4 separate regions of the Homo sapiens genome follow, and regions 1, 2 and 4 are each reported to be linked to region 3. Evidence: microRNA targets listed by miRTarBase, many of them from high-throughput screens and not tested one by one. Region 3 holds a microRNA gene; each other region holds the end of a gene's coding sequence. Distances are between the middles of the regions.

Evidence for each region. The annotated mature microRNA hsa-miR-5186 reads AGAGAUUGGUAGAAAUCAGGU and lies in region 3 at 3,039-3,059, opposite strand. An mRNA with a match to its seed (bases 2 to 7 or 8) in the 3' UTR can be bound and repressed. Matches are read on the target gene's strand: a 7mer-m8 pairs with bases 2 to 8, a 7mer-A1 pairs with bases 2 to 7 and ends in A, and an 8mer does both.
Region 1: the mRNA of FAM168B is a reported target of hsa-miR-5186. Seed matches in the 3' UTR shown: 7mer-A1 at 2,886-2,892.
Region 2: miRTarBase lists ATP13A4 as a target of hsa-miR-5186. Seed matches in the 3' UTR shown: 7mer-m8 at 4,290-4,296 and 7mer-m8 at 4,134-4,140.
Region 4: the mRNA of SRSF6 is a reported target of hsa-miR-5186. Seed matches in the 3' UTR shown: 7mer-A1 at 5,943-5,949 and 7mer-A1 at 4,432-4,438.

Annotation. Positions count from the first base shown.
Region 1 is chr2:131,045,065-131,053,471 of GRCh38, forward strand. FAM168B (family with sequence similarity 168 member B) reads right to left here. Exons shown (of 7, transcript NM_001009993.4): 6 at 7,827-7,951; 7 at 2,812-7,388. The coding sequence ends at 7,839. ARHGEF4 (Rho guanine nucleotide exchange factor 4) reads left to right here. Exons shown (of 14, transcript NM_001367493.1): 13 at 305-382; 14 at 974-2,189. The coding sequence ends at 1,125. Among named protein-coding and RNA genes, the nearest start is that of SMIM39, 14 kb to the left of the region's middle.
Region 2 is chr3:193,395,506-193,403,980 of GRCh38, forward strand. It overlaps ATP13A4 (ATPase 13A4), which reads right to left. Exons shown (of 30, transcript NM_032279.4): 30 at 3,462-7,359. The coding sequence ends at 7,147. Among named protein-coding and RNA genes, the nearest start is that of ATP13A5, 21 kb to the left of the region's middle.
Region 3 is chr3:151,562,866-151,569,865 of GRCh38, forward strand. MIR5186 (microRNA 5186) reads right to left here and starts at 3,130; the gene lies at 3,011-3,130. All of the region lies in intron 1 of LINC02066 (long intergenic non-protein coding RNA 2066), which reads left to right. It also overlaps a transcript of IGSF10 not described here.
Region 4 is chr20:43,459,540-43,468,014 of GRCh38, reverse strand. SRSF6 (serine and arginine rich splicing factor 6) reads right to left here. Exons shown (of 6, transcript NM_006275.6): 3 at 8,120-8,244; 4 at 7,774-7,982; 5 at 7,417-7,500; 6 at 3,772-7,312. The coding sequence ends at 6,952. Among named protein-coding and RNA genes, the nearest start is that of SRSF6, 5.9 kb to the right of the region's middle.

The sequences.
Region 1 (8,407 bases), not on the chromosome of region 3:
AGCCTCCACTGCAGTGGAAAAGACACTAGACATGGAGTGAAGGTGAGAGATGGGTGGGCAGAGGAAGGACTCGGGGATCTTCATTTTCTGCCAGGAGCCCCAGGACAGGACACCAGAGCATGCCCTCTGCCCTGGTTGGCCAAGGCAGGCTGACTGTGCAGAATGGGCAACAGTCCCCGCTGTGGCCAGTACTGAGTCCCCAGTACATGATGAGACCCTGGGCACCAGGAAGGTGCAGGTGTGCAGGGAACTGCACCTGGGGCCACGAAGTGGGGCAGCGCCCTCACCTGTGCCCCTTCCTCAGGCTTCTCCATCACTGAACTGCAGAGGAAGCAGGCCATGCTGAATGCCAGCAAGCAGCAGGTCACAGGGAAGCCCAAAGGTAGGCGGACAGCAGCCCCACCTCCTCGGCTGCCCGGTCCTTACCCTGCTGACATCATTCCCTTCTCTGAACCACAAAGCCAAGCCAGCTAGCCACCAGGCCTGAGGGGGGCCCACTGCCCTTTGCAGCTGTTTGTTCCCAAAGGTTGGTAATAAGGGGCCACTGGGGAAGCCTGGGTCAGTATATGGTTGACATTCTTACTCTCAACACCTTGGCTCCCCCAGATCAGGGCCATTGGTGACAATGCTTGTTTCCCCAGGGTTCCTTCCTGACAGGCATCTGGGGTTGGTGTAGGGATGGAGCTGCTTTCCCCATTTCTACAGAGAGCCATGCCCCTGAAACATCACATGCCTTTGCACAGGCCACCCCCCTCTTCAGGCTGCTGCAGGAGGCCAGGCCCAGGCCAGAGACCCCAGGCAGCCTGAGCTCTTGGATGTGGTCAGCTCTCCAGGAGCAAGTCCTGTGTGGCAAAACTGCCTCCTACGGCGGCTCTGAAGCAGAGCCCTGGGACGGACCCCATGCTGTCCCCAACAGCTGGGGTGGCACTCTGCCCTGGGCACCCATGACCCTCTGCTGTCTCTCCCTGTTCAGCTGTTGGCCGGCCCTGCTACCTGACGCGCCAGAAGCACCCAGCCCTGCCCAGCAACCGGCCCCAGCAGCAGGTCCTGGTGCTGGCGGAGCCCAGGCGCAAGCCATCTACCTTCTGGCACAGCATCAGCCGGCTGGCACCCTTCCGCAAGTGAACTGGTCCCTGCCTGACAGCACCTGCTGGGCCTTCCTGCCAGTGGCCCCCAGTTTTTCTTCCCCGAGGCCCACTCGGCCTGGCCTTCCTCTGCCTGCAAGTGAGCAGGGATGGGCTGGGGAGTTGCTTGTGCCACCAAGACGTGCCAGGTCTGTACTCCTGTTGTCTTTTTCCCTGCTCCTGGTGCCCTGAAGAGACCAGCAAGGGGGCAGACCCCGCACTCGCCACACCGCCGCTGCAGCTTGGGCCCCATCCGCCCTCTGGACCTGTGTAGGGCCTCACTGCTGGAGCGGGGAAACCGCAGCTCAGCCCAGGCCCAGCTGGGGAGAAGGCGCTACCTGCGTGGGACCCTCTTCTCTGGAAACCTAATCCTCCTTTCATTTCCTCTGGGCAGGACTCTCTGGCCTTCTGTGGCCTGCAATGCCAGGCCATGTGCCCCTCTGCCCTCTAGTTCTCCAAGTCCCCAGCCCGGCCAGTGGTGCCAGGCAGCTTGCCACTTGGGAGGGCAGAAGCCAGGAATTCCACACCCTTGTGTTGCGCCCGGAGCCCGCCCTTCGCCTCCCAGCCCCTCAAGACACCGCTGGCTGCTGGACACCCTCTTCACTTGTGTGTGTGTGTGTAGCGGAAAAGGACAAGACGGTGCAGTCGGCTGCATACTCCCAGTCGGGAGTGTGGTCAGTCTGCCTGCTGCTGTGCGGTAGCTCCAGAACCACCTCGTTCCTGGTTTTGTTTGGATTTTGGCATCTTGTTTTTCTAACAACAAACAATGGAGAAAAAGAATTGATTCTTAGTGACACAGAAGATTGCCTTACGCTCGTGAGCGTGAGAAGCCATAAGAGAGAGACCGAATTCTGTGGCTCAGCACACAGGACTGACCCACAGCCCAGGCAGCGGGTGTGTGGAGATGGCGCCCTGTCCTGCCAAGGGGCGCCAGGAGCAGAGCCAGGGCCTGGCGAGCTGGCGTGGAGCCCACAGGATTCAGCAGCATGGACAGTCACTCTTGCACTATTCCTTCTCCAAGCCAGAAACCACATTTAATTTCATAAATAAATTTATGAAAAGTAACCTGGCTGCTAGCCCGTTTTCTGTGGGTGTGCGTGCATTTTCCTGTGGCCAGCAGCCTCTAAAGGTGGGGTGGGGGCTCACCTGTCGCAGATCACACCCTCGGGGATTTAGTGGAGATGATAGGCTGAGGCGGGGCTGGCTGCAGTTGTTCGCCTAAGGCGAGCAGGGCCAGGCCATGCTGGTTGCTGATGGGGAATACAGGTAGCTCTGCCCTCCCTTGCACTCAAGACCCAGAAACCAGTGCTTCCCTGTGTTTGTTTGACTGGAGCTGGCCCACGTGAGTTTGGTGGGTGAGTAGTCAGTAATCTTTCTGGGCCTCAGCATCCCTGGTGAAATGAGGAAGAACGTGTCTTCCCAGGGTCTTCTGACCCTGGCCACAGAAGCCAGAAGGGGAGCATGGTGCTGCTTCCCTCCCTGTCCCACTTGGGAAAATGGTCCCCTGCAACCTGCTGCCTCCACCACACTCCAGCACTGCCAAGGTCACTGGGGCTGGACGCCATGGTGGTCTTCTTCTCAAAACCCCTGGCAATCTCCCAACTTGAGAGAAGCCCCAGCACCTCCCAGTCAGGCCATGCTACCTCTAGACAAAAACCCATATGGAGAAATCATGAAAACCACAATATGCAACACAAGTCAATCTTTATTGAAAACTGCAGTATTAATACATAACAATTCTTGTTACAATAAACGTGCTTTTGAGATTTTTAAATCTGAGCTCATCTCATCAGATTGCATAAAAAATTAAAATAGTATCAATTGACACCTAACTGAACTGGCTCAGGATGGAAATTCCATTCCTTGGCATGGATACGTAAGTTCAATGCAGAGGTGAGGGATGCCTTTAACACTGGAAGACAATGCTGACTTAGCTTAAAAAAAGTACCGAGAGAACGGTGTAAAAAACGGTATTTAAAAATCATTTTTAAAAAAACAAAAAGGAACCGTTTCTTCTTTAGTTACAATCCATGAGGCTCTCTAGGGCCTCTCCGTGTGGCCAGCACAGCAACCCTGCTAGGAGCACAAACGGCTGGCCTGAGATCTGGCCCAGCTGCCTTGCCCACTGGTCTGCACAGGGACTCATGGGCACAGCCTGTGGTGAGGAGGAGACACCTGTCATGCCAGTCCTGGGAGCACACCACCCTTCTGCAGGCCCGGGGGGGGGTCCCTACACAGACGCCGCTCATCCTCTGTCTCCCCTTCCCAAGTGACTTCACTTCAGTCCTGTGGACCAAGATAAGGCTATCCCCACAGGCTCTCTCTTCTTCAAATAATGAGTAGGAAAAAGAGACAAACTTTCTGAAACATGCAGTTTCCGACCCAAATAGGCCACATACCCCAACTTCTGTGTTACTTGGTCAGTTGAGCCCCTGGAGCCCTCAGGACCTACTGATAAAGCATGTCCTCTGCAGTATACTCAAGAGTCTGCTGCCCTTCAGAAAGCCAGAGGGAACACTCACAAATGCAGAGGTACTAGAGGGGAGAAATACGTGCTCTGCCTTCCCCCAGGCCAACCACACTCTGCTTTAGAGACCCTCTCAGAAAGCACCAGAGAGGAGGACCAGACGCTGCCACCCACCTCAAGCCACACCCCTGCCACCTGCTGCTGCGCCCAATGGAGGTCCTGTCCTGTCCGGGCAACAGCCAAACTGGCGACAATGGACACATCCAACAGTCAGCTGTCGGATAAGGTGAAGGTGGCCCAACTGCTCAGAGTAACACTGTTCTCAAATGTTTAAAAAGGACAGGTGAAGTCTGGGTCTCCTTTTTTAAAGCAGACACCAATACTTACATAACTAGTACATGTTGGCCTTTCACCAGCACTCACTGGCACTCACAGGTGCCTTACATACCTTACGGGGGCCAACACTGACAGGTATTAGTACGTCGCAAGTTGCTGTAATAATGTATTTCCTCTCGTTACTGTTGTGTCCCCCAAGACACATGCAAATTATTTCCTAGACCTCATTCATCACAGCCAGATGATGCCACCAGAAAGAGCAAGGTACTGTATGCCCAGCTGGGGAAGGGCAAGACACTCACTGACCAGGTGCCCACCCCAAGGCTCAGGACCACCCCCATTGCCTGTGAACACATTTGCATAGCACTCAAGAAGGTTTCCCAGAATAGCGACAGGTAGGCCTACAAACCACACCAAGAAGAACGTTCTTAACAGATGGCTCACGAGAGACATAAAAGGTTCTGGAAGTGCCTTCAGGCCCATTACCATGACTGGCCCTGACTCTGGCCCTCACAGAGCGGCAAGTTCATGGGTCACTGGCTCACACTAAATGCTCAGCCGCCAGCACAGATCCAAACAAGACCTCCATGAGCAGAGAAACTGCAGCGGCTGAACACACTCCCCAAGCCTCAGGGGAGAAGGTGTAGAACAAATATTTTTTAAATAGCCATCATGATGTCCATGTTTACATGAACTAGGTCCTTTGCTTACCTGCTGTCTCAACTTCTAAAAGAATAGTAATTCAGCTGAAGGACTCCCAAATTAGGAATGTCAAACACACAAAAAGCAAATTTCTCAGAATGCTCCACCATATGCTTCGGGACAAATTATGAAGCTTTGTAACAGAATTTTGACCCAAGTTCTATTTCTTAATTGACTTTAATTTTACTAGAAGCGAATGTTGATAAAATTACAACCTATGACAGTTTTGTGACTATTTCCTAAGTCCAGATTCTTACCTGATATCTACCTTTCGTATCTGACAGCTGACGTCCTAAAAATTTCAAAGTCAGAAAGATTTCTGCACGGATGTGCAATGCAAACTTATTTCATAAAGCCTCTCAACTTCATAAAAGGGAAAAAAGGTTAAGTTACAGGGAGGAAGAAAAGTGTTTATGAAGCTGATGTAAATGGCGTGTGGGGGGTGCAGCCCACTCTTTAAAACACCATCCTGTGTGTGCCAAGTACCAAGCAAGCCTGAAGAGATGCCTGTAACTTCTAACCTCCTCCTGAACCCCAAGACTCCAGCCCTCACAGGAGTTGTACATGTATGTTTCCATTTTGTTGTGTGGGGCTTTTTAAAAGCATACACTAACATTGTGAGTATTTTATCCTAATCTATTAGCACTCAATTGGGAAAAAAGACTTCTCTGCTACTTGGTCAGCTGAACCCCTGGAACCGTTAGAACCTACTAATCCTGCCAACCATCCACTAAACAGATGGAATTACCAACAGAGACTTGAAGAAAGGGGCACAAACTGTGTGCCTGCGGTAAATGTCTGCCCCCACACATAGACACTAAGATGGATTAAGTGCTCATGAAGCAATTTAAAGTACTTATCAGTAAACATTCTATGTTAATAGACATCAGGAATAAAGAATCTGCTGTTTACAATGATCCATGCAAAAATATTCCTAAACTTCTTATAAAATAAGATGTGAAAAAGAAAATTATAAGAAGTACTTACTATAAAAAATAAGGTTACCAAAGGCTCAGTGGTCAGGTGTCCCCCCACCAACCAACTGGGGCAGAATGCTAGTGGGCATCCTCACTGGGCGCCAGTGCCCTGACCCAGCTACCAGCAAATGAAGAGGAGCAGAGCCCCCTCCCCACCAGAGCCCACAGCACTCAAACCACCACTGCACTGGGAAGAAGACGCACGCTCCTGCCCTAGAGGCCGCTGAAAGGGACCCAGGCCTTACATCCCCCACCCCCACTCTGACCCTCACTGAGAACCGACATGCACTCTCATGGATACAGGACGGGCATATTTTGGGGGCGGGGTGGAGGGAAGCCTTTTCATTTCTTATGTACAAGATTCAGATCCTAAACTCAAATTCCTCTCCCACAATAAACCCTGCCAGCAAACGCACTCCAGCACTGCCTGGCCCTCTCTGCTGTCTGTGCTTGCTTTGTGCCAAGTGCCCTCAGCTGCAAAAGAGATGGCAGGAGAGGCTCGCAGACAACAGACACTGGCCTCCCCCTCGCCCCATCTCTAAGCGTCCCCTCCAGCCGGCCTCAGCAGACAAGTCACCACCATCAGGTGGGTGATCCCAGAAGCAGCTACAGGTTTCTACATTTCCAGACATATCCACGGCCCTGCCTTTCTACAAGAAATTGGAGGAATTTTAAATAAAGTTTTGTTCCCTTTTAACTCATTCTTAAATATACCACTTTCTTCATAACATACAGCTGAAACCTTTGCCCTTCTTTGTTGGGGAAAAACAGCAATGCCTACCTGTTTTCAGCTGATTCAAACATTTCTCCAGGAAAAAAAAAAAAAAAGGAATGATTTTCTAAGCTAAATAAAGCAGAGGACAATACCTCCTGCAAGCATGGCTGTTTCTCTTTCACATTTCTTCCATCCCAGGAAAATAATTTAGTTTTACATAGGACTTTTCCAATAAAGACATATAAAAACATCATCTCTCTAAGAGAACTGTAATGAAAATTTAGATAGCAGAGAAACTGCTTTGCTGACACATAAACCACCCCCCTCGCCCCAAATTTCACTGGCCACACTACCATAATCTTTCATGATGAGCTTTAAGCATGTCCCTGTTCCACTGACTCCACCAAGCCTAAACTCAAAGGGATGTCCATGAACCAGCTGCACCCAAGCAGCTGTGGCTTCCCTACTCTCTCCCAAACCTCGCAACTCCCTCCCAGGACAGTCAGTGCCAAAGAAACAGGTCGCTGAAAACTAAAATGTCCACATCCCTAACTGGCAACCCACATCAACCCCAAAAGGTTGAAGAATCATCTAAGATATTTCAGATGCTCTATGAAGAAATTCACTTTAACACTTATAACTGTAAGACTTTGCATACATTACAACAGTGCATTAGTGATACAAGTTGTAAAATACGTTTCCATTCCTTTGGATTTTGCATATGATGGTTTTGCATCAGTCACTGCAGGTAGATTGAGCAAGCTTTTTGTGTTTGTTTTTTTAAACATGCATTCAACTAGATATGATTCAGAATAGATTAATACTCCCTTTTTATCATTACAGTTAGCTAAAAAATTGCCAGGCAGTCCACAAAACAGAATTTGCTTTAAGACCAACCCACAGAGTCAGCTGGAGACTAACGGCGCTGGGGCCTGCTGGGCCGGGATATAGTCGTGTTTAGCTAAGTGTCGAGAGCATTAAGAAGAAAGTCCTGGTTGGAGGCGCAAGGCCTGCAGCACCAGCTGTGGAATCCCCAATAATGTGACTGCACAGCTCCGTCCTCAAACCTGCAGAAAGGAAGACAGACACTCAGTCACACAGAGCTCTTCCGGCACCGCTATTCCAAAATCTCAAGTAGGATGAGGCCCAGCAGGGTCGGAAAGGGCAGCAATGGGCAAAACTGCTGGACCTGGTTCTCACTTCCTTCCTAGAGACCCCCAATTGCAACTGGAGCCCTATTTCCTGTAGCAGGCAGGTGGGGGGTTAGAGCACATTCCAGGCAAGGCTCAAGATGGACAGTGTCAACAGTAGGTATTCAATGGTTCCTTCCTTCCTTCTACTCTGTAATGTCTCAATAAAAACAAAAAATTTAAACACTACATTGCCTCTGGATCCAGGGTCAGGCACACTTTCCTCGTTAGTGCTTAAATATGTGGTAAATTTGCCACTGTCCCATGGAAATGCCCTTTCATCAAAGGCTAGCCCAGCCTTCCCTGGTCACTTACATTTGCAGGTGATCACCACTGAGGGGGCACATAGCTGTAAGTGGGCGTTCCTGGGGCCCGGTACGTGGGCACAGTGACCGGGTGGGGGGCGACAGGAGTTGGGGAGTGAGCAGTCAGCAGGGTACCTGGAAGAAAGAGCAGCACATGACATGAGGCTGACCTCCTGCACAGCTCCACACTGCCTGATACGCACACAAGCCTGGCCTCTTTGCAAGGAGGAGGGTATACAGGAAGAGGGATAGTCTTGACCCAGATACTGTCAGAACTCTGATTAGATAATCCCCCACACCCAAAAGTTGTCTCCACACAGCAAGCTCCACAGACAATATGTTCGTAAAAGCCTTTTGTGTGTCCCCTTCATAAAGCACACCCAATAATTTTTATAGGTCAGATGATAAACAAATGAGTATGCTTCAGCCTTAACAAGGAAGGAGATTCTGACACATGCTACAATATAGATGAACCTTAAGAACATAATTCTGAAAGAAAGAAGCCAGTCACTAAAAGACAAATACTTAATGATTCCACTTAGATGAAGTACCTGGAGTAGTCAAATTCAGAGACAGAAAGAAAGTAGAACA
Region 2 (8,475 bases), 42 Mb from region 3:
GGCTGCACAGAGGAAGGGGGCCCTGAACCCAGACCAGGAAACCATTTTTCCTTCTTAGGCCTCTGGGCCTGTGATGGCAGGGGCTGCCATGAAGGACATTTTCCCCATGGACATGCCATGGAGACATTTTCCCATTGTCTTGGTGATTAACATTCAGCTCCTTGTTACTTATGGCAAATTGCTGTAGTAGGCTTGAATTTCTTCCCAGAAAATTGGTTTTTCTTTTCTATTGCATCATCAGCCTGCAAATTTTCCAAAATTTTACACTCTGCTTTCTCTTGAATGCTTTGCTGCTTAGACAGTTCTTCTGCCAGATATCCTAAATCATTTTTCTCTCAAGTTCAAAGCTCCACAGATCTCTAGGGCAGGGGCAAAATGCCAACCAGTCTCTTTGCTAAAGCATACCAAGAGTCACCTTTGCTCTAGTTCCCAAGAAGTTCCTCATCTCCAGCTAAGACCACCTCAGCCTGGACTTCATTGTCCATATTACTATCATCATTTTGGTGACAACCATTCAACAGGTCTCTAGAAAGTTCCAAACTTTCCCACATCTTGCTGTCTTCTTCTGAGCCCTCCAAACTGTTCCACCCTCTGCCTGTTACTCAGTTCCAAAATTGCTTCCACATTTTCAGGTATCCTTATAGTAGCGCCCTACCATTTCGGTACCAATTTACTGTAGTAGTTTGTTCTCACACTGCTATGAAGAAATACCTGAGACTGGGTAACTTATAAAAGAAAGGGATTTAGCTGACTTACAGTTCCACATTGCTGGGGAGGCCTCAGGAAACTTACAATCATGGCAGAAGGTAAAGGATGCACTTTTTTTTTTTTTTTTGAGACAGAGTCTCACTCTGTTGCCCAGGCTGGAGTGCAGTGGCAGATCTCAGCTCACTGCAACCTCTGCCTCCTGGCTTGAAGCAATTCTCCTGTCCCAGCCTCCTAAGCATCTGGGACTACAGGCGCCTTCATGCCCAGCTAATGTTTGTATTTTTAGTGGAGACGGGGTTTTGCCATATTGGCCAGGCTGGTTTTGAACTCCTGACTTCAGATGATCCACCCGCCTTGGCCTCCTAAAGTGCTGGGATTACAGACATGAGCCACCGCACCCAGCTGCAGGCACCTTCTTCACAGGGCAGCACGATGGAGTGAGTGCCAGCAGGAGAAATGCCAGACACTTATAAAACCATCAGATCTCATGAGACTCACTCACTGTCACAAGAACAGCATGAGGGAAACTGCCCCCATGATCCAATTACCTCTACGTGGTCCCACCCTTGACACATGAGGATTACACTTCAAGGTGAGATTTGGGTGGGGACACAGAGCCAAACCATATCAGCTATTGAGGTGGGAAAGTGAGGACTGAGTGCTGAGAGTAATAGGAAATTCAGTTTGCTGAAGTAGAGAAGGCAATAAGGGAAAAGATCTGAGATGAAACCAGATGTGGCCAGTGGAGAAGGACTTGAAATCCTTAGTAAGCAATGTGTACTTTATCTGGTAGACACTTCAGACCATTAAGGGTTTCTGGCCATGGACATGACATCATCAGAGTTGTGCAATAGAATAGATAGAGACTTCGAGAAGAAAAAATAGAAGAAAGATCTCAGTCAGGGAGACTACTTAAGAGGCTCTTGTAATCAGGCAGGTGGTGACAACCAAGGGCTTAGAGGAGAGGAAGTTCTGCACAAGAGACACTGCCAAGAGAGGGTCTAGGACTTAGGAATTGCTTGTAGCAGGCCCAGGTGGGACTTTTCATTGCATATATGTGTTTGTAATTACAAAGGTAAAAGCCATCATTTACCCACAAAACTTCCTCGATATGATGCAAAACCATCACCCTGGGCTTGCAGCACAATATGAATGGTGCCTCCTAGGACTGTACAGTGTGAAATACGTACAACACATGTGAGACCTCTCTGCAGTGTAACCCCCTTTAACCACAATTTTAAACTCAGCAGAATGTCCACGGTAAGTATGTGTGCAGCCTTTATCACAGGTCAGTGACTTATCAGATTTTTCTTGGCATTGAAACACTTCGAAGTCAAGACAGCAAGGAAAAGAGCTGGGAGAGTCTGGATGACTCTTTGAGTGCTTTTCATCCAACCATGGACAATGCTCTGCAGCATCCTGCATTCTTTTCCCTGACAGATTAGCTAATTTAATTAGCAGAATCTGGCTAGATGTGAAAAATGTAAAGAACCTTGATTTGGAAGTCAGTAGGTCTAGATTATAGACTCAGCTCATTCATTTCCCCATTATGGGTTCTTGAACAAGTAGTACTCGTTCAGCCTTGGTCATCTGAAGGGTGGCACAGGCATTATGCAGAAAACAAACCACGGTAGTAGAGCAAGAGCAACATTAGACAGAGTGGTCAGGGAAGGCTTCTTGGAAGAAGTGACAAGTGAGCTGAAATCTGAAGGAGAAGGAATCAGGAATGGCAACAGGGGGTTGGTGGCGGGCAGCATTCAAGGCAGAGAGGATGGCAAATGCAGTCTTCCTGAGGATAGAGCAAGCTCAGAGTGTTTGACAAAGCCATGTGGCTCACTCCTAAGGCTCTTTCATCAACTCCGGGAGAGTTGTGTTTTGTTGTTAATTTTATCTTTGTTTAATTTTGGAGAAACTCACTTTACTAATAAAGTTTAAAGGCCATTGTTAACAAGTCTAATGGAAACCAAAGGGCAGACAGAATGTTATAGGGCAGCAGTTTTCCAAATGTTTATGCATAGAGAAGTGAGCACAGTTCAAAGCCAAAAGAAAATCTATAGGAACCTGAAAAGCTGTGCCAAGCAAGTCTGAATAAAGATCAAGCAGGGATATAGTTTTCTGTTTCTGGAGACTGAAGTCAGAAACCAGAGCTTTATCCAATCACATGAAATGGGCTCACAGGGCTCTGGTGTTATGATTTTCCTCCCTCAGCTGTGGGAGTTGGCCTTTTCTGTGATTGATGGTCAGGTTCAAGAGAACTTCCATGAAACACCAAAATCTCTTTCTGGAAGAAACTGTGCTCATTATGGCAATTACATTGGACATTTGCCTCGCTGTCGTCTTGTTTTTCAATGCTACGGTTTTTCTCTTCTTTTTTCATTCAGGAAAAACAACATAGGAGAGTGACACAGCAGGGATCTCGCTGATAAAGGACCTGCATCTGAATCCAGCTCCTCCATCCATGGGCCATGTGTCCTGGTTGCTGAGACATCTGGAGAGCCTTGTACCTCATCAAAAGAAGAGAGACAGTAATCCTTGCCTTTCTTTCCTCCTAAGGTTGTTAACGAGGCTTAAATGAGAGAACAAGGATGAAAGTATTTTGTAAACTCTAATGCCCTGTGTATAAAGCAGAGAATAATAGCATCTGTGGTGTTAGAAAATGCCTGGAACTTTGTAAAGATGTTGTTTGATTCAACATTACTGGAGTAAACCACACCATTAGACAGAATGAAAGACTCCACCGCAGAGAGAGAGACTGATTTTTATAACAACTGAATTTATTATAGCATAAACTAAATACAAAGCTCTGAATAAATAATCGTTTTTTTCAGTCATCACATCTGCAGGTGTGTATGTGAACATTTCCATAAGCACATAAGGATACAGATGTCACAGACATATTTAGTGAGGGAAGCCCAGAGTCACGGTTCTCTGTGGGTAAGAGCTAGATGCCTTGAGATGAACATACAGGGCACCGTCTCAAATGATTTGGACTATGTGACTGTGTTCGTTTCTCCTTCAGACTCTGCTCAAGAAAGTGTATTGATAACAGGTTGCTCCGCCCTCAAGTTTAGGGCACTCTCCCACGCTCTTTCATGCAAAGTTTTTTAACACCTCTCTTTAAGAAAATTCACAAATCAGAAGTATTACCCCAGCTTCAATCTGACAATCAGGACCCCTACTCTGCCCCTCTTTCCTAGGATCTTATCTCCATTAGGGGTCCCCTTTCAAGGTACAGGGCAATTGAGTCTATATGTCCACACAATCGGATCTGACAAGGCTGGGAGCCCTCCCTCCAGAGCCCATCCTCCCATGAGTGTCTGTCTGGTATTCTGTGTGGGTAGTAGTAGAAAATAGTTCACATCTGGTGGCTCATGTCTGTAATCCCGGCACTTTGGGAGGCCGAGGCGGGCGGATCACGAGGTCAGGAGATTGAAACCACCCTGGCTAACATGATGAAACCCCATCTCTACTAAAAATACAAAAAATTAGCCGGGCATGGTGGCAGACCTGTAGTCCCAGCTACTTGGGAGGCTGAGGCAGGAGAATGGTGTGAATCCGGGAGGCGGAGCTGGCAGTGAGCCGAGATTGTGCCACTGCACTCTAGCCTGGGCAACAGAGTGAGACTCCATCTCAAAAAAAAAAAAAAAAAAAAAAGGTTCACATCACAGCATAAGACTGAGACACTGGGTGTATCAAGCTTGAAAGAGATCTTGCAGGTAATTGAGTTTCATCTGATACTTGACTTCCTTCTCTACTTGGCCCTTGAATAGCCACTTGTTCCTCCAATGTCCTAGAGTACATTCCACTGCTATCAGTGCTGGCTGTTAGGACAGTGGTTAGGGCAGATGGCCTGAAGCCATCCCCACTGTGATCTTTACCCATTTGTCCTGATTTTGCCTTCTCATGCCACCTGGCACAAGTAGGATCCTTCTTTCTCAGGAAAACCCTTCACAGTCCCCTGACTGTTTTCTTTCCAGGCTGGGCACTCCCTGTTCCTTCAATTACTGCTTCTAAGATGTAGTTAATCCCAGGAATACAGTCTTCAAAATGAGTCTCTTTTCCCAAAGATTTTATGGCTGCTTGACTAGTGGAGGACTAGATTCTTTTCTTCCTGTTCCCTGCCAGCCTTTGCTAGTGATAGAATCACTTAGGATCAAGGCAAGAGCAACTCAAAGTCTCAGAAAGACAGACAATCATTTTTTTGTTTTGTTTTGTTTTGTTTTTAATACACCTCTAGCCCAGGCCTGGCAGGATGCCTGGCATTCATTTGAACAGAGGGCCTGGTATTAGCAAAGGGTTGCCCATTCTTTGCTTGACTGTGAGATCACACTAAGCAACCTGCCCTGCTGGAACTCTGGAATTTGGAAGTATTTGGCAGCAATATAAGGTTTGCTCAGAAGATCTGTATTTGAGGCCTAGATCTGCTCTTGCCATTACTGAATCTCAGCTTTCTCATCTGTATGGTGGAGATGATAAGCCCTTCCTTGTTCAGTCATGGGACAATTGGTACCATTCAGGTGAGTTAGTGGAGGTGAATGCACTTAGCAAAGGGCACATTTAAGTATGAACTGTGCAGGCTGATCTTGCTCATGACTAGGTCACAGACCATCTCTAGCTTGCCCCTGCCTACAACCCTCTACTTTTGGAAAATGAGAAACACTTTTAGAGAAGGACATTCAGAACTGCCATATCATTGCTGAGGCTGGCTTTGCAAAAGGAAACATTTCTTTCTGTACCAAAAAAGACAGTGATTCTGCAGTCTTGAAACACTAAAATATCTTCACGCCCTATTTTAAAACCAGAAGTAACAGGGTACCCTCATGGCTGGGAGACACCATGTTCCTAGAATCAGCTGCAATCATAGAGCCATCAGCCATGCTCAAGAGCTCAGTTAGGGGGAAGGAATGCTTGCAAATGCTATTGATAAGTTCCAAAGCCAGCCTGGGCCAGGACACTTATCCCCTGATCAGAACATTCACCTAGGATTTGATGCTCATAATACAAATTTTGCTTTTGCCTTAAAATATTATATGTAGGTGTGCTCCTAGAGTTCAGTGTTGTCTCCTGAGGTAACAGAAACCTGAGTCTTCCTTGTGCTGAACAAATCAAATATAACCAAATTGTAATAGTGACAAAATAAGGACAATTTTAGTTTTCTGGAAACTCAAGCCACAAACTTTAAAAAAAAAATGTACTAGTTGTGTAAGAACTCCCATCAATAGTGCCATATAATGCTGTAGCATGAGACTAATGTTTCTCAAAAATAATAAAGCAGAGGAGTGAAAATTTCTGGAGTTGGCCATGTGACATGAGAGATTCCTAAAACATAGGATAAGTTACTGGGGTTAGGAAAAGTGGGCTGTAGTGGACAGCACTCGTGCTTTCTGATCTGTTATTTTCCTCTCCTTCCCAGGACTACGTTCCAGACCAACTCTATCATTTGTGGGGCCTGGTACAAAATGAAAATATGGGGACCCCTGTTCAAAAATTAAGAATTTTAAGATGGAAACAGCAGAGTGTTAAAGCCAAGTGTGGGGACCTTCTAAGCATGGGGCCCTGTGTAGTGACAGCTCATAAGCCCATGAAGCATCCCTAAACACAGGAGACTGCACTTTCCAGCTCCCTGGCCAAATCCTTGACTAATGAGATATGAGTAGGGAAAGCAATGTGTGCCACTTTTGGGGTGAGGCAGTGAAGAGCCCACACGTGATCTCCAGTCTATTCCTTCCCCCATCACAGTCAACACACAGTCCTTGCATCGAGCTGATGGAGCCATCAGGTTGAAGCAGTCACTGCTGTAAGAATGGCAGTTCCAGAGTGTCACCTGGATCACGAAAGAAGCACTTGTGTGTTAAGGCACTGATATCTGAGAGTTGTTTTTTATTGCAGCATAGGCTAAGCTTATCCTTAACAATATGTTGGGTAAGGCCAGAAACAGAAGAAAAAGCCTCAAATCTGAAAAGTACTACAGAGAAAAGGAACCCAGACAGTAAAGATTGGTGTAATGTTTCCCACGCATTAGTTTTTCCATCGATGAAGTAAAAATTCAAAAATTACAACTCCGTGAGTATACACAGTACTACTTCCCCTCAACTCATTTTTATAAAAAGGAAAGTATTGTCCTGTCCTAAGAGGAAAGATCACATATTTTTCCCCTTTAGCCTGCTTGTCTCTTGGCCCATAGAAATTCTTGGCCCATTCTTGCCTTCACTGAATGCCTCTAATACCTTCAGAAGCCAAGAGGAAAGCACTCTTCTGGGTCAATGTTCTTCTCTGTAGACAGTATTTTATCAAACAGACTTTAGTTTGTCACCATGATTTGATAGGTAGCCCCAAAACTCCAGCTGATGTTACAAGAGTCTCATTTCTTAAAATCAATGAAACTGGTCCCTTTTGTCATTGTTTCTCTGTAATATCAACTTGGATATCACATGTCCTTCAGAGTTGTTCTTCATTGCTCTCAAATACTGGATTGCTGTAAGACACTCCTCTGCCACACTCCGGCATGTCAGAGTGGGAGGTTTGGTTTAGCGGGGGCCAACTAGGGTCATTTGCCAAGTCCCTCTGCCATATCCGATACTGGCTTTTTGACTGATAGCCGAAACATCTTTTAATCATCATCCACAGGGCTCGATTTTCAATAACAGCCTCCTGCAAAATAAAATAATTACTTTTTACAAGCAAGGGTTGAGTGTTTTGAGGCTACAGCCCTCCACAGGCCATCATAAGTCACTACTGCAATGGTTGCTTAGATCCAGCTTGACAAAGAGCTTGACCACTGGACCAATCTAAGGTGGTTTCATTGGACAGGTATTGGTTTCTCAAACGTTTCTACTTAAGTAACTCCTGTGGGAGAAGTAAGAGGTACAACATTTCAAGACTCTGGGAACATAACTTGAAATGGCTTGCCTCAAAAATGAAGTTTCTTTTGAATCTCACATCTAAATTGAATTTAAAATCATTCAAATTCTATGTTTCACTCTATAGCACATCTATATTTTGTTTAATATAAAATGACATTAAAATTACTACTAAATACTAAACACAATTGACCCTATATAAAGATGTGGCCCATGTATGACATGTTTTTGATATATCCTGACATATCACTGCATATTTAATTTCACACGGGCCAGTCTTGGAGTTGAACAGATCTGGATTTAGGTCCCAGTTCTGACACCTATTATGGGCAAATTAGTTACTCTATCCATGTCTCCGTGATTAGAATAATCCCTTCCTTATGTTTGTTGTAAGGCTTATATAACTCCCTTTACAATGCAGGGCAGGGCAGGGCATAGCTCTCTCCCTTTGCCTACCCTTTGGAACTACTCATTTAACAAATGGCTATGCACTGTGGTCCTGTTCACACATGCCTCTAACCTTCACCTTCACTGAAATACAGTATTAAGATTACAAAAGACATGTCTCTTTGAAAACATTTTGCAATGCCATTTTATTTCATGAGTTAGAGTGAGCCTTGAATAGAGCCCAAGTTATAACTTATAATTCATGAGAGGTTATCATATTAATTTTCCACTTTTATCATGTTTGCTCACAAAGATTGACCATCTTAGAGGTTATTGTGAAAGAAACAAAGAAAAAATATGGGACGTGAAACTGTCCCACAGAATTAGAACTGATTTTCATGTCTATCTTTGCTAATTTGAAAGAGTTAATTCTGTGAGATTCTATAAGGAACTTTGCCAGATATAGTAGTTTTCCTAAAATCTACCCATTTTTGCCATTTAGGTTCCACTGCCCATGAAA
Region 3 (7,000 bases):
TGGACAGGAAAAGTGCTACCACTTGTAAAGATCATGGAGTTTATATAAAAATGTTCATTTAACCCCCTCCACCTAGCAACCTCCACCTAGCAAACTCCATTTAACCCAAAACATAGGGCCTCAATCCTCTGCATGACCTGCATTCTAAGGGATGGGCCAGGGATTCATATGTTCTTCATAGAGAAGGAGTGAATCTCTGGGTTGGCCACTCCCGGATTCCTTAGCTCAGAACTCCTAACACACATTTTTCTTAGACGGTAGGTCATTCATAGGGTATGCTTGAGTTAATGCTCTCAGGTGTGTCTGCCATATATCTTCTCACCCTGCGGCCCTCTAGGAGAGGGAATAAACAGCCTTGACCGTGAGAGTGACTTTCTTCCCATTTCTCCTACCTGGTACTGCTTGCTAAGGCCCGTACCTCTGCACCTCATGTCCCAGGGCATCCTGCCTACACTTTAGGCATCAACTAACTAGAATAACAAAATAATAAAATGTCCTAACTTGGGCCTTCTTAATTTGAGGTATGTGAATGGGCTTCAGGAAATCCTGAATCTAATAAAAAGCTAAGGACTCTAGGGAGAGAGTTCAGTTTTCCATGAGCTTCACTGCCAAGTAAGACAAATAACACGTTTATGGATATATAAAAGAGACCTCAGAAGCCATCAAGCCATCAGATACTCAATTGTCCCTGACAACAACTTGCATTTTTTCCTTCTGTTAGAATTATATCCAAGTGCTGGAGAGTTGTCACCAACAACAGTAATATTCACTTGGACATTTAGCTCTAGTTTAAAGCACTGGAGAGAATTTGGTTTCCTGTAGTTGAATTTGCAGCGTTTAAAAAAAATATTAGCCTGCCTTATGATATTTTATAAGTATTTAGGAAGTAAAATTTTGGTTGAACAAAAGCCATAATTTATTTAACAAATATTTATATAGGGCTTACTATATGCTAGGCACTGTTTTAAATGCTTTATAATAATTAAGTCATTGAATTGTCAGAGAACTACCTATGAGGTAAGTGCTGTTCTTATATCCATTTCACAGGTGAGGAAACTGAGGCACAGACAGGTTGGGGAAGCAATCCAAATGAAGACATCAGAGGGTATTCACCCAGCAAGAGGCAGAACTAAGATCTAAATTCAGGCAGTCTGGATCCAGCATTTATGTTCCTAAACACATCTTTGCTCGCTTCCTGTTATGAGTGTGAAAAGAATATTCTGTTTCATAGAAGATGATCATCATCAGGTTTTACCACAAACCTTGCATTGGCTTTAGGAGTAAAACATAAATAGCTATATTTTTTCTAATTTCTTTATGTTAGTTCTAATAAACAATGTATTAAATACATATTTTTAGGGCATTACATGCATATTTAATTTGACCAAGCTGATATTATCGGGTTTCATACTCCTTTTTTGCATCAGTACACACATTCAATTTTATATTTGACTTTTTTTTTAATTGCACAGGGAGCCAATTGGCAGCTTTGGATCAAATTGGCTTACATATATGTTTTGGCCAGCATGACGTTTAAGAATTTATTTCCTTCCTTCCTTCCTTCCTTCCTCTCTTTGTTTCCTCCTTTCTTTCTTTTTTTCTTTGACAACATTTACAAATTGGGAAATTGACCATGAAAGTCTAAATTTCTGGCTTCTTTTTGAAAAGACAGAAGGAAGCATTGGGTTTGCATTCAGGCATGGAAATATTAGGCTGGACTGAGAAGTGGCTGACCTTTTAGATGAAGTTTGTGTTCCCCAGTTGGCCATAGTTTTTACCAGTTTGCTTTGCTTGATATCTGCATGCATTTGGGTTACGGCAGTTGAATGAGGTATGCATGTCCTTAGAGGCCAAGAAACAATTTACTTACTGACTGAGCTTTAGCATGAGAGAGCATAATGACATGTGAGTTACCGGTGAATCAATTACAAGAGGTACCCAAAGGTAAGCGTGCAGTTGAAAGTTTCATATACAAGTGGTTGTAAATAAATAGCCTATAACTAAAAAGTAAGAATCATGGTAATGGTTAAATGTTCATTGAATACATACTAAGCACAAGATTTCTTATAGGTATCAGTCCCTTTAACTCTTGTAACAAGCCTAGGAAGTAGAAAACTGAGACAGAGGCAAGCTAAGTAACTTGTGCAAGATCACCAGCTAATAAACAGCGCAGTTAGGACTTCAGTCAGGCAATCTGGTTCTGGAATCTGTGGCTTATATTATGCTATACTTTCTCTCTAAAAACTCTGAAAGAACTCTCTAGTACTGGCAGAGAATGGGATTTACTGGTTAATTCATATGATGGTTTGACAATTGCTGTGTGAATTATCAATTGTTAGGAGGTAAGACCAGTTGAGAACTTTAAGCAGTACTTCACTGGGGTTTGGCAAATTGGTAGAGAGACCTTGAATCTAGAATCTAGTGCTTGACTTTATAGGCCCAGAAACCATATTTCACCCATTTGTAAAAATCATAATATAAAATCACCAGTATGTTTGTAACCCAGAAGTACAAAAAGTGAATAAGGAATTTGAGATGCCATTATATACAGAGGTGAGTGGTAAGGTCTGGTTTACTGGCATCCTGGGAGCTCCTGGCCAGAGCAGAAGGTGAACATTGTCAAAATTGAAACAAGGGATCAAGAAAGCCAGGCCTGCCTCCAGGTTGAGGTAAATAGTTCAAATTATGAAGTTCAAGCAGCTACAGAATGATCTGTTCCAGGGGTTCAAAACTTTTTTGTGCATCAGACTCACCTGGGGGAAGTTATAAAAACAAACAAACATAGAAATGTTCTGCTTTATATTTTTAGACCTACTAAAGCACCTACCCTGGAGTTCTAGTGAGTTACTGAGCTAATTCTGTTGCTTCTGGCCCACTGATTGGTATTTGAGAAACACTGTTCTAGTTGGAATTTGCCTTTTGAGAACGTTAATGCATAGTATCAGATAGATACGAGAGTGATAGATTAAGATGATAGCTATGATTCCTGTATTAATTAATGCATGAAAGTGTTAGCCAGCTTATGGCATGACCCTCTCACCTGATTTCTACCAATCTCTCCCCAGAAAGAAATCAGCTGAGGAAAGGTTGGTAGAAATCAGGTGAGAGGGTCAAGTCATAAGCTGGCTGAGTTGGGGAGTAGGCAGGGGTCCAGTCCTGGGAGAATCAGTGCAGAAAGCAACTGAGGCAGTGCCAATGTTTAATGAGAGGCTTATAAAATTGCCACAAAGTGAGGCCCTAGCTACATGTCATGAGAACTCCCTGGCAGAGGGGAGAAAGCAAATTTGGATTAGAATGGGAGGTATCAGCTAGAAAATCAGAAATCTGACCAAATAATGATAAACATGATAGTTTATGAATTAGGAAGCAGGGAAGTGAAACCCTACCCCACAAATGATAGATTAGGAAAGATTTGAGATGAATAGTAGAAAAGATAGTGCATAAGGTCTCCTCTGCTCTCCCCAGAACTGAGGGATGATTAAAGTTAATAGCATTTGTTGGGTTCTACTTAATAAGTACAACTTTTTGGATTTATTAAACCAGTTGGCATTGGTTGTGTTATGCTATAACAAACTCCAAATCTCAGTGGCTAACAAGGAAGTTGACTTCTTGTTCTTCTGACAACCCATGTGTTGTCCCTGCTTTGGGTCCCAGGCTGATAGAATAGTCGCTATCAGGAGGATGCTACCATGGCAGGGACAAAGAGAGCTCAGAGGAAATCATGCCAAGAGATAAACATTCAACAGGAAAGTGGCATACATTGTTTGTGCTTTCAGTTCATTGGCCAGAATAGTTACATGGCCTCCACCAACCACTGGGAGCCATAGAGTGCTATGTGCCGGAGGGCAGAGAGCTGGGAATATTTAGTGAGCAGCATTCGGTACTACCATCTTTCCCTCTGAATAGGTTAACAGCCACAAGTCCTGTCACAATTTTTAGCAATTTCTTCAATGTCAAGAAGAATTATATTTCTTAGCTAACAGAGGTGGTGTAGTTTCAGGGTGCCTGCCTGGCCTATCTACAGCACTGTCAGCTCCATGCTCACCCTTGCTGAAGAGATGAGTCTCTCTGTTCAAGTTCGTCTAATGTCATAGCCTTTTCCCTGATTGGACCAGGGACCAACACCTATCCAGGTGGCTGTCAATCTGTTGGCTAGCCTGTAGGCAAATGTATTTTCTGAGACACAGAGTCTCTAGTCAAATGGATGTGGGCCTATGAAGTAAATGGGTCTGTAGACTTGGGCCCTGGGCATTTTGATCCTGTCTGTGGACAGTAGCCAATGATCATAGATGAGGAAGATTATATGCAGTTGAGACAAAGAGAGAGAAACTTCTATCTTCAGTGGTTCCCTGGATCTCAGCTCCTATTCCTGGGAGATTCACCTCTGCTTCATTTTTTGTGAAATGGCTTTATGGCCTTATAATAAATATTCATTTTATTTGAGCCACTTTATTATCCATATGAATAAATTGAGAAGCCTAGTCACTCTGCCTCTGCTGAGAGTATCATCTGTAAACCAGGACTGTAGAAATTCTGGGACTCGTGCTAGGGTGTATAGTTGGGAACTAACAAGAAAAACTTTCACTGTAAACCTACTTGAACTTTATTTTCTTATTTTCTGTATTCCTGATGCTCTGGCATCTTGGGCCTCACAGATCTGGAGGGATGGCCTCTCCCAGCATTAGTTAATTCCTGCAGATATCAAACAGTGTTACCTGGGAGGGTCTCTTTTATATGCAAACTAAGCAATTCAAAGCCTACTGTAACTAGCCCCCTACCTCTGTGGGACCCTTCCACTCCAGGCCAATAGTTTCTTGCCCTAATCAGCCCAGGGCGAGGTGCTAGACAATTCCAAACAGCTCCTACACCCCAGAGCCTGCTGAAATGATTCAACAAGACAATTCTAAACCTGCTTAGCCTATTTTCCTGCCTTGCCCATTCCTTTCCACAAAACTGCAGTAAAGGCGCTGACCCCTGCTTTTCCCCTGTGCCCCCTGCCTGGCTTCCACAAGCGACTTCCCTGCATTGCTGTGCCTCCTATTTCTAGGGAACTGTGAGTGCAAACACCTTCTTCCTTCATGACAGTCATTGTCAGGCTCACGTCTTACTATAAGTGATCAAAACAAACCCCAGTACATTTTAAAACAAAGCCTCTCTCTCTGTTTTCTTCTGGGCCTCAATCTTTGGGTACCTACTAGTTTATTTGTCAGAAGAGTAAAGACCCTCTGTTCTGGTAGGTGGTCCTCTCAGATGTCTAAATTATTAGCTGTCTAGTCTACTGCCACAGAACATATACAATAGAACAAAAAAAGTACTTTTTCCTCTTTAATCCTGTATTTATGATTATTATAATAAATTATCCTTATTTCTAAGCATATGTTTGGTAAAAAGTCAGTACTAATTGTCACAGGCACACTGTTTTACTGGACAAAGCTTGAAAACACATGGACACGTGCCTCCTCCAGACACTGTGCAAACCAAAATCCTTTTATTATGACAACAAAACAATGACCTCATTTCTTTCAGAATTTAATTATCGGTATTACAATTCTCTTGTTAGGACTTTAAATGGGGTCTGGGACACTACTAGATAGTGTTTGGCTTGAGGACACAGAAATGCCTGAATCACGATTTGATTTATAATATCTCCCTAGGGACGGCTCACACAGAGTTCTCTTTCTTTATAAAACCCTGCTTCACCCCTGTGTGTAATAAGCTGACATTCAAGCACATAGCATGTCTGTCAGAAATATCCACCTCCCTTTAGTCTTTGAACATCATGGTGGGGGAGGATTTAGTTTTAGTATAGCAACACTACCCTCCAACCCTCCCATGCAATAGAAAAAGTGTATCCTAGCAATTTTGACTTCCAGACACTGGATTGTCTCTTTTCTGGTAAAGGAAGAATGGGCTGCTGAAGCTCCATTTACTAGGTAAGACACCCTTATGACTGTTCTCAGGTGTATTTGTCAGAGTGTGTAGTCATGAAACCAAACTATGTTAAATATTTCCAGCAGAAAGAAACTTAATATAGGGAATCAATAGATTACAGCAAAGTGCAGAATGCTACTGTTGACGTCACAGTCATTGCACAGCCCCCGAAAAGAAGAATAACGGAGGAGTATGAAGTCTGAGGTAGCCGAACCTAGCAACTGCTGCTAGTCTGCCACCAGCATTTCTATTGCAACAATACATTCTGCCTCCTTTCCACCTGTATTTAATTTGAGACCGAATCTTGCTCTGTTGTGCAGGCTGGAGGGCAGTGGCAAGATCTTGACTCACTGCAACCTCCATCCACTGGATTCAAGCAATTCTCCTGCCTCAGCCTCCCTAGTAGCTGGGATTACAGGTATGCGCTACCACATCCGGCAAAGTTTTGTAGTTTTAGTAGAGACGGGGTGTCGCCATGTTGGCCAGGCTGGTCTTGAACCCCTGATCTTAAGAGATCCACCCACCTCAGCCTTCTATAGTGCCAGAATTACAGGCATGAGCCACTGTGCCCGGCCTTTCCATCTTTTGAATATCACTTGTGTGCCTCTCATTTGTTATCTCTACTATAACTGATGGGGTGGGATTGTAGGAAATGTAGTTCCCAGGCTTCCTGCCCCATGATACCAGAAAAGAGTGTAAAAGGGGCAAAAGTGATGCTAAGTGCTGAGATAATCTGTCACACCATTTAAGTAGGGGTATTGCAATGCCTTGGCTTTCAGGGACAAATGTGTTCTACAGGCTAGAGATTTAAAATGCAGCCACAAAGTCCTGCCCTGGTTCAAGGGCAGGAAATACAGACTCCATCTCTAGATAATAGAAATATTAAAGAATTTGTGAATATATTTTCAATTGATCATGGCATTATAACTATTTTTTAATCTTTTTTTTAAATTATACTTTAAGTTCTAGAGTACAGGTGCACAGCGTGCAGGTTTGTTACGTATGTATACATGCGCCATGTTGGTTTGCTGCACCCATTAACTCATCATTTACATTAGGTATTTCTCCT
Region 4 (8,475 bases), not on the chromosome of region 3:
TAAAGTAAATGAGATACTTTGATACAGACATGCAATGTGTAACAATCGCAACATGGAAAATGGGGTATTCATCCTCTCAAGCATTTTTTTGTATTTTTATTTTTTCTTTTTAATTACCCACACTACACAGACATACCCTCAAGCATTTATCCTTAATGTTACAAACAATCCAGTTATATAGTCTTTATTTTAAAATGTACAATTAAATTACAGACTATAGTCACCCTGTGTGCTATCACATACTATATTTTATTCTTTTTTGGACCCATTAACCATCCCTACCTACCCCTCACCCCCTTACTACCCCTTCCCAGCCTCTCATAACCATCCTTTTACTATTTCCAGGAATTCAACTGTTTTGATTTTTAGCTCCCACAAATATGTGAGAACATGTGAAGTTTGTCTTTCTGTGCCTGACTCTATCCACAGTTTTTGATTCAGAGTCTGGGGTGAAGACTGTATTTGTAACATCTAACATCGGAGATGATTTTGATGCTGCTGGTTGGGAACCATGTTTTTTTTTTTTTTTTTTTTTTTAAGACAGGGTCTTGCTCTGTCACCCAGGTTAGAGTGCAGAGGCATGATTGGCTCAATGCAGCCTTAACCTCCTGGGCTCAAGTGATCCTCCCACCTCAGCCTCCTGAGCAGATGGGACAGGTGGGCAGCATCAGTCTGATTTTTAATTTTTTTGTAGAGATGGGGTCTCACTATGTTGCCCAGGCTGGTCTCAAACTCCTGGGCTCAAAGGATCCTCCCAGAGTGTTGGAATTACAGGCGTGAGCCACTGTGCCTTGGCAGAACCACACTTCTTGCTGGGTGCAGTGGCTCATGCCTGTAATCCCAGCACTTTGGGAGGCCAAGGTGGGAGGATCGCTTGAGGTCAGGAGTTTGAGACAAGCCTGGGCAACATGGTGAAACCCCGTCTCTACCAAAAAGAGAAAAAATTAGCTGGGCATGGTGGCAGCTACTCAGGAGGCTGAGGTGGGACGATCGCTGGAGCCCAGGAGGCAGAAGTTGCGTGAGCTGATTGTAACACTGCAACTCTAACCTGGGTGATACAGTGAGACCCTTCACACACACACACACACACACACACACACACACACACACCCGCTTTCTCTAGGTCTATTAATTTACAGGAAATGCAGCATACAGGAGAATACACTTAATGACGCCATGAGATTGCAATCAGCAAAATCAAGACTGGGAAACTCTCCAGGACAATGACTTAGCTTCTCCAATAAACACACTGCAAGGGGACAAAGAGACTCTAGATTTAAAGAGAGTTTAGATGTCTTTAAAGAGCTATATAGTGCATCTACAGATAAAATGTCTAGGATTTCCTTCAAAATTATTTGGGAGAGGAAGTAGACAGGTATACATTGTTAAAGCTAGAGGAGCACAAGGGTGGTTCATTCCACTATTCTCACTGGTGTTTGAAACTTTGTATGACAAAAGTAACAGTAATGTGTTTAGTACACTCGGGCTGCTCATGAAGGACGAAAAAGTAGGGATAGTAGATACTTTAATACTTGGGCACCACATTCCACGTTTGGCATCTTTGTTTTGCCTTTTTCTCAAGTTGGTTAGAACAGTATTATTAGAGTTTAGCTATTTTTTTTTCTTTTTTTGAGACAGAGTCTTGCTCTGTTGCTCAGGCTGGAGTACAGTGGTGCAGTCTCTGCTCACTGTAAACCCCCCTCCTAGGTTCAGGCGTTTCTTTTGCCTTGGTCTCCAGGGTAGCGGGGATTACAGGCCTGCGCCACCACGCCCAGCTTTTTGTATTATTAGTAGAGATGGGGTTTCACCATGTTAGCCAGGCTGGTCTCCAACTGCTGATCTCAAGTGATCTGCCTGCCTTGGCCTCCTTTACAGGAATGAGCCATCACACCCGGAGAGTTTAGCTCTTCTATTTCAGAATGTTTTCCTAAATGCAGTTACTATTTAATGAGTGACTATGCCAAATGCTTTGATAATAGTATTTACTTTTCACAATATTAGCAGGTCTTGTTTTATAGATGAGGGTGCAACTTATTTGCCTCCCAATCCTTTTGGCCTTGGGCTAGGGGACTTGCTCTGCTTTCAGCAGTAATGGGGGTTCTATCTGATGCCATCAAAGCTTTGCCTTCAGCAGCTCTTAATCTCCAAATTGGTTCCCTCCTAAAGACAAAAATAAAAAACCACCTTCTTTAAACCTTACCTTTAAAAGTCTACTCCCTTAGCTGGGTGTGGTGGTGCACACTTGTCTCGGCAATTTGGGAGACTGAGGTGGGAGCATCGCTTGGGCCCATGATTGCACCACTGCACTCCAGCCTGGGTAACAGAGTGAGACTCCATCTCTTAAAAAACAGAAAACCTAAAGAAAACCCATATAGTGTACCTGCCCCCTCCTCCCCGCCACCCCTCCAAAGCAATTCCTTTATGGTAGAAGGCCAGGCAAGGTAGCTCACACCTGTAGTCCCAGCACTTTGGGAGGCCGAGGCGGGGGATCACCTGAGGTCAGGAGTTCGAGATCAGCCTGACCAACATGGAGAAACCCTGCCTCTATTAAAAAAATACAATCTTAGCTGGGCGTGGTGGCACATGCCTGTAATCCCAGCTACTCGGGAGGTTGAGGGAGGTGAATAGCTTCAGCCCAGGAGGTGGAGGTTGTGGTGAGCTGAGATTGCACCATCGCACTCCAGCCTGGGTAACAATAGTTAAACTCTGTCTCGTGGGGGGAAGAAAAGTTTATTTTGTAGGTTTTGCCCTCATCTTGGATTTGTCTCGTTTCTACATGACAGCATTTTGGGCAGGAATATCACAAGAATGAGACTCTGTCCTCGATGTATTATGTCCAGTGACCCATGTTAATAACCTGGATCACTATTAAGTCATTTTTTAAAATAATTTTGAGGGAGAGGAGGCTAACTGGAGGCTAGGTATATTAACTCCTCTTCAAAAAGTAACATGAAGAAAAAGCCTGAGGATGCATTAGAGATTTAGAGACTCAAGAACCATGACAACAAAATGCAACCAATGAATCTTGGACCAAGAGAAAAAATGTAAGGGACATTAAGGGACAACTGATGAAACTTCGGTATGAACTGTGTATCAGACAACAGTATTTTATCAGTTAATTTCCTGATTTTGATAATTCTGTAGTTACAGAAGATAATGGCCCTGTTCCCAGAAAACACATTGAAAAAAAATTTTTTTTGAGACAGGGTTTCACTCTGTCGCCCAGGCTGGAGTGCCATGGTGTTATCTTGGCTAACTGCAACCTCCGCCTCCTGGGTTCAAGCAATTCTTCTGTCTGTCTCAGTCTCCCAAGTAGTAGGACTACAAGCACGCAACACCATGCCTGGCTAATTTTTATATTTTTGGTGGAGACAGGGTTTCACCATGTTGGCCAGGCTGGTCTTGAATTCCTGAGCTCAGGTGATCCTCCTGTCTTGGCCTCCCAAAGTGCCGGGATTACAGGCATGAGCCACCGCACCCACTCTTCTAATTTTTGAACCATGATTCCTTTCTATTCAAAAGGAATAAAAAGTTAACGACTGTGTTAAGTGCTATACTGGGGGCCATCTGCAGGATTGCTCAAAGATAAACAGGCATATGTAAACAAGCTATATAGGATGTACGAAGACCAACTGCACAATTGTACTGACTTGTCGTTTCAGTAAATGGATGCATACATGTTCGGGATACTAATCTGTTATTCAAAATATGGTCACTGAGGAAACTCAAAGATTAGCATATAAATCGGTAATTACTACACTAGGTGCTCTATTGCAAGAACTCTAAGTTTTATTGTGTAATGTTGAATCTTGAAAGTAATTTTTAAATTCATGCTGATAGACAACTGAAAGGATTATTCACACTGTTGGTTCTGAAAAAAAATTTATCATACATTCATTCAACAGTAACCAGCCAGCCATTTAAAGCCGATCTCTGTATTACCATGTATTAAAGCAAACTGCAGACTACTACTCAGGGCATGAACACTGAAAACCTAAAAAGGCATTTTTATATGATCATAGAAATCTCTTGAGCAGATACAAGAACTGTTAACAGCAGCTGCATTAGCAAGTAGATTCCAAGGTATGGTCCAACCATGTATATTTGTAAATAAAATTGTATTTGTTATGGTACTCTCTTGTACTGTTCATATTCTTGACTTTTAATCTTCACATCCCATGCATGTTTTATCCCTAGTTTCATGGATGACACTGAAGCACAGTGATTAATGAGTTGCCCAACATAAACCATATACTAAATCCCAAACTCACGTTTCTGGGTAAGTGAACACAAGATCCTGTTCTCATACTCAAGACAGGAATGGCTTGCCAATGCAAACTCCAATTCAAAAAAACATTTGTTAAGAATCTGGTCCTAAGTGGGCATATGCAATAAACTCAAAACAAGCCTTTCCCTCAGTAAGTATTTTATTGAGATTTAAAGCACAAAATAGGTGAACAAATCGGGAGGAAGGTGGTAACACAGGAATGGGAACGTAAAAGTCAAAGTAGGCAGGACTCAAACTGGCCATAAAGGCACTACGGCATGTTCATAAACACCATCAAGTAAAAGAAAGGGGAATCAAGATGTTCTCACTTCTTTTCTGCTCCACCTTAATACTCCATCTAGCCACTGGTATGGAGCATGTCATCAACTCATTCTTCTCACAAGCTAGCAAGGGAATTAAACATTTTATCAGTCAACCCTATGCTCACCAAGTGAGCCAATGTTACACAGTGATTTTGTGCATCCAGTGACTGAGAACTACAGGCAAGGATAGGCCCTGACTGTTAATAAATTGGTCGTGGCTATTACTAGAAAATTATGGGTGCAGGCATTTACCTATACAATGACCTGCTTACTGTGGCAGCTAACAATATAGTCAAACCAGTCTATTACCATATGATGTCCTATTAACAAGAGAGCCCAGTTGAAGGATGTTTCATACTTTTAGAAAGCCTAATTTCTTACTGTAATATCCTCCCATCCCTCTTTTAAAAAGGCTGTAGTTCAAAAAGCTTTTATGTTCTTTCCCTGAAAACAAGAGAACTTTGGTCAAAGCCAATTTTTAAGAGTCATCACTTCTGCTGAGTAGGCAAAACAATGAACTATAACAACAGACATCATTTTCTTTCCTTAAATTCTGAGGTTTATGCTGGAAAAATAAACCCATTTCTTTATAAACATCTAATTAAATAAAGTATCAAAGAAAATAAGATAATGGAAGAAGCATCCGCCTTTTGGGGCACTATATTCCTAAGGTTGGGCTTTAAGATTTTTTAACAGGAAACCCAGGAATTTCTGAAAAACAAGGCCTTTTTCACATTACCAAGAACTCACAGCTACTCTGTGAATGCCCTAGATATTTGACTCAAATTTTTCACTCAATCTTATTAGGTATATTTCTGGATTATTTGAATCTACAAACCAACCCTAGAATATCATGCTTTCCAGTCACACCTGTGGCACAATGAGCAGTGTACGACCATGCCCCATCACAATCCAACCCTTGGTACCCTACATTGTGACACCTCCTAGAAAGGTATTAAAGCTGAGCCAATTAATCTATATTTTGATTTCAGACTAAGATTAATAAATGCTTTTAAATAAAGTAACTTTTAAGGTATCTGAACAAAGGGATGTAAGGTTAATTCACTTCTCAAACTGCAATTTCAACTCATCAGGCTTATGGATGTATGGACTAATTGCTAACCTAGTAACTCCTACAAATTTGCAGTATTCAAATTTGGTTTCCACAGTACTCATTACACTTTACTCGTAATAAAGTACAAAAGTTTTGCGTTTACCCATTTCACTGTTTTTCAAACCAATTACACAAAGCATTAAAATTTACAAGTATGATCTAACCAATTATCAAATAATCCCACTAACTACAAAGGGGACTGACTACTGGGTGGAACTTAACTGGCAACTGACTTTACTGAGATTAAGTGCCTGTTAAACATAATGATCTTTCAGCAGAAAATGCAGTATGTGCTTTTACACTTTGAATAAACTCAATTTCAGAACAAAAAGAGGCTACTTCCATTTCCACATGACAAACATTAAAGACAACTGAACCACTCTCAACACTAATTATGCTGAGAACTTCCAGAAAGTGGATTCTCTAAACAAGATCCCAAGTATTAGGAGCTATTTCTTAAATAGTTTAAATTTGCCTTTGAAAAAAGTTCCATTACTTAAAAGTATTAATTTAAGCAAAATCATGGAACACATTGACTAAAAAATACCTTTTATTTTTACTCAACTTGTTAAAGGGGCAGATAAAGACTTTGGCAAATTTGATTAACTGCACAAAATAATGTTATCCAAACTGAGTAATTTATTGCTGGTCTGAGGCTTGCCTTGTTTACACTTAAGTAGAATTTACGTTGTTTCCACAAATGGCAGATATCAACATTTAAAGGAATTTAATAGTGACCTATTCAATAAGGCAATCATCTTGGTAGCAAACTTTTATTTAAATCTTACATAACTCAAGCTTTATAAAAAGCCAACATAATTGAAAATTGGGTTCTCCCTCTAAAGCCTTAAGTATTCAAAGCTCAAAACAGTTAATTTAAAAATAAGCAAACAAATAAAACAAAAAAACCCTGCCAGCAGATCCTGCTGAAATACTAAAAAAAAAAAAAAAAAAAAAAAAAAAAAAAAAAAAACAACACTAAATGAGCTTAATCTTTACAAAAGTTACGTTAGCTCAAAAGCTATAAAATCAAAGTTATCTTAATTCTACAAAGAAGGGAGAGGGTCTTCATGCCACCATTTCCTTAGAGCCTCATCTTTTTCATCCAATTTGGCCACAAATCAAATTTCTGTGTGCCCCTGTTTTCAAGAGATTCCTCTTGCAGAAGAGGCCAAGTATAAACATGGAAGAGTAACTGCCTAAGTAGGAAAGTGTTCCATAATAATGTGCAAACAAGGAGTTCTGAGTTAATCTCTGGAACTCGACCTGGACCTTGATCTTGACTTTGAGCGAGATCTAGAACGGGATCTTGAAGTAGCTCTTTTTGGTGGAGGGGACACAGAACGGGCCTTTGAGGGTGGAACAGGTAGCGGCGAATTGGAACGGGACTGGCTCCTTGATCTGGATTTTGACTTTATATCACCCTTTCCATTTTCTTTAGGGGATCGGGACCGAGACCTGCTTCGAGATTTCTCATACTCATCCTTAGATCTGCTTCGAGAATGTGAATGGGAGCCCCGATCAGACTTGGGCTTAGATTTGCTCTTTGATCTAGATTTCCTGCCTTTTGATCGAGAACGTGATCGACCTTTGCTCCGCGACCTGGAACTGGACAAGGAAAGACCGATTTTCTCAATACTTAGTGAGAATGTACACATACTCCATAAACAAGTACGGTAATATTCACAGTGACTCAACACAACGTTATTTACCGGGAGCGACTTTTTGAGATACTTCGAGATCTACTGCGGCTGCTCCTGCGACTCCTACTTCGTGACCGTCTTCTAGATCGAGACCTATTAGGAGAAAAACAATGAAGTCTTAATCCCAATCCAACTTAAATACATCCGTGCCATCTGGCAAAAATAGATAAGCCAAAGAATAATGTTTTTCTTTACTACGAAATTAAATACACTGTTCAAAACATCCAGAAAAGAACGCAATGATGCACAGCCAAAACAAACTAAAAGCTGGCTTTAATTCAAGTAGGCAACAATTGACATCACTCAATTACTCCCTTTTTATTGGCAAATATTGTTTCCTTCCCACAGTGTCCTTCAACAAGTTACCTGGATCTGCTTCCAGAGTAAGATCGCCTATGGCTTGTGCGTGGCTTATCTTCAATAAGCCTAATATTTCTGCCATTTATTTCTGTGCCATCCAGTTTGTCCAAAGCACGCTTCATGTCAGAGTAGGAGCGAAACTCAATTACACCCTCATTTGTTCGTTCCTTGTGGGCATCCGCATAGGTTACTTCACCTGCTTGTCGCATAAAATCCTGAAAGACAAGATTGGTCAGACTCGGAAATCTTAAAACATCTATATACCATAATAAATTCCCAGAAATAAGAATATAAAAGGAGTTTACTTTAAAGCATTAGTCATATCATTTCTATCTTGAATTACAAAACATACCTTTAAATCTTGCCAACTGCACCGACTAGAAAGATTTTCTACAATAAGCCTGTATTCTGTACGAACAGGTGGTCCGTATTTGTCTCTGCCAGATGTTCTCCGACTGCTGTATCCACCTCCACCACCTTTATCACATGAAGGGAACAATTAGATGCCTTGTAATGATAAAAACGCATAATGTCTTTGAAAGTTAGTACAAACATATCAACTTTTATTTACTGGAGTAGGACTTTGCTATTATATTGCTAAACCTTCGACACATTTGTGATTTGCCATAAAATTAAATTAAGGGCAAGTCAAATAGACTAAATCCAACTAAACCTCTCCTACAATCTGTTAGAGAGTGACTGCTCCTT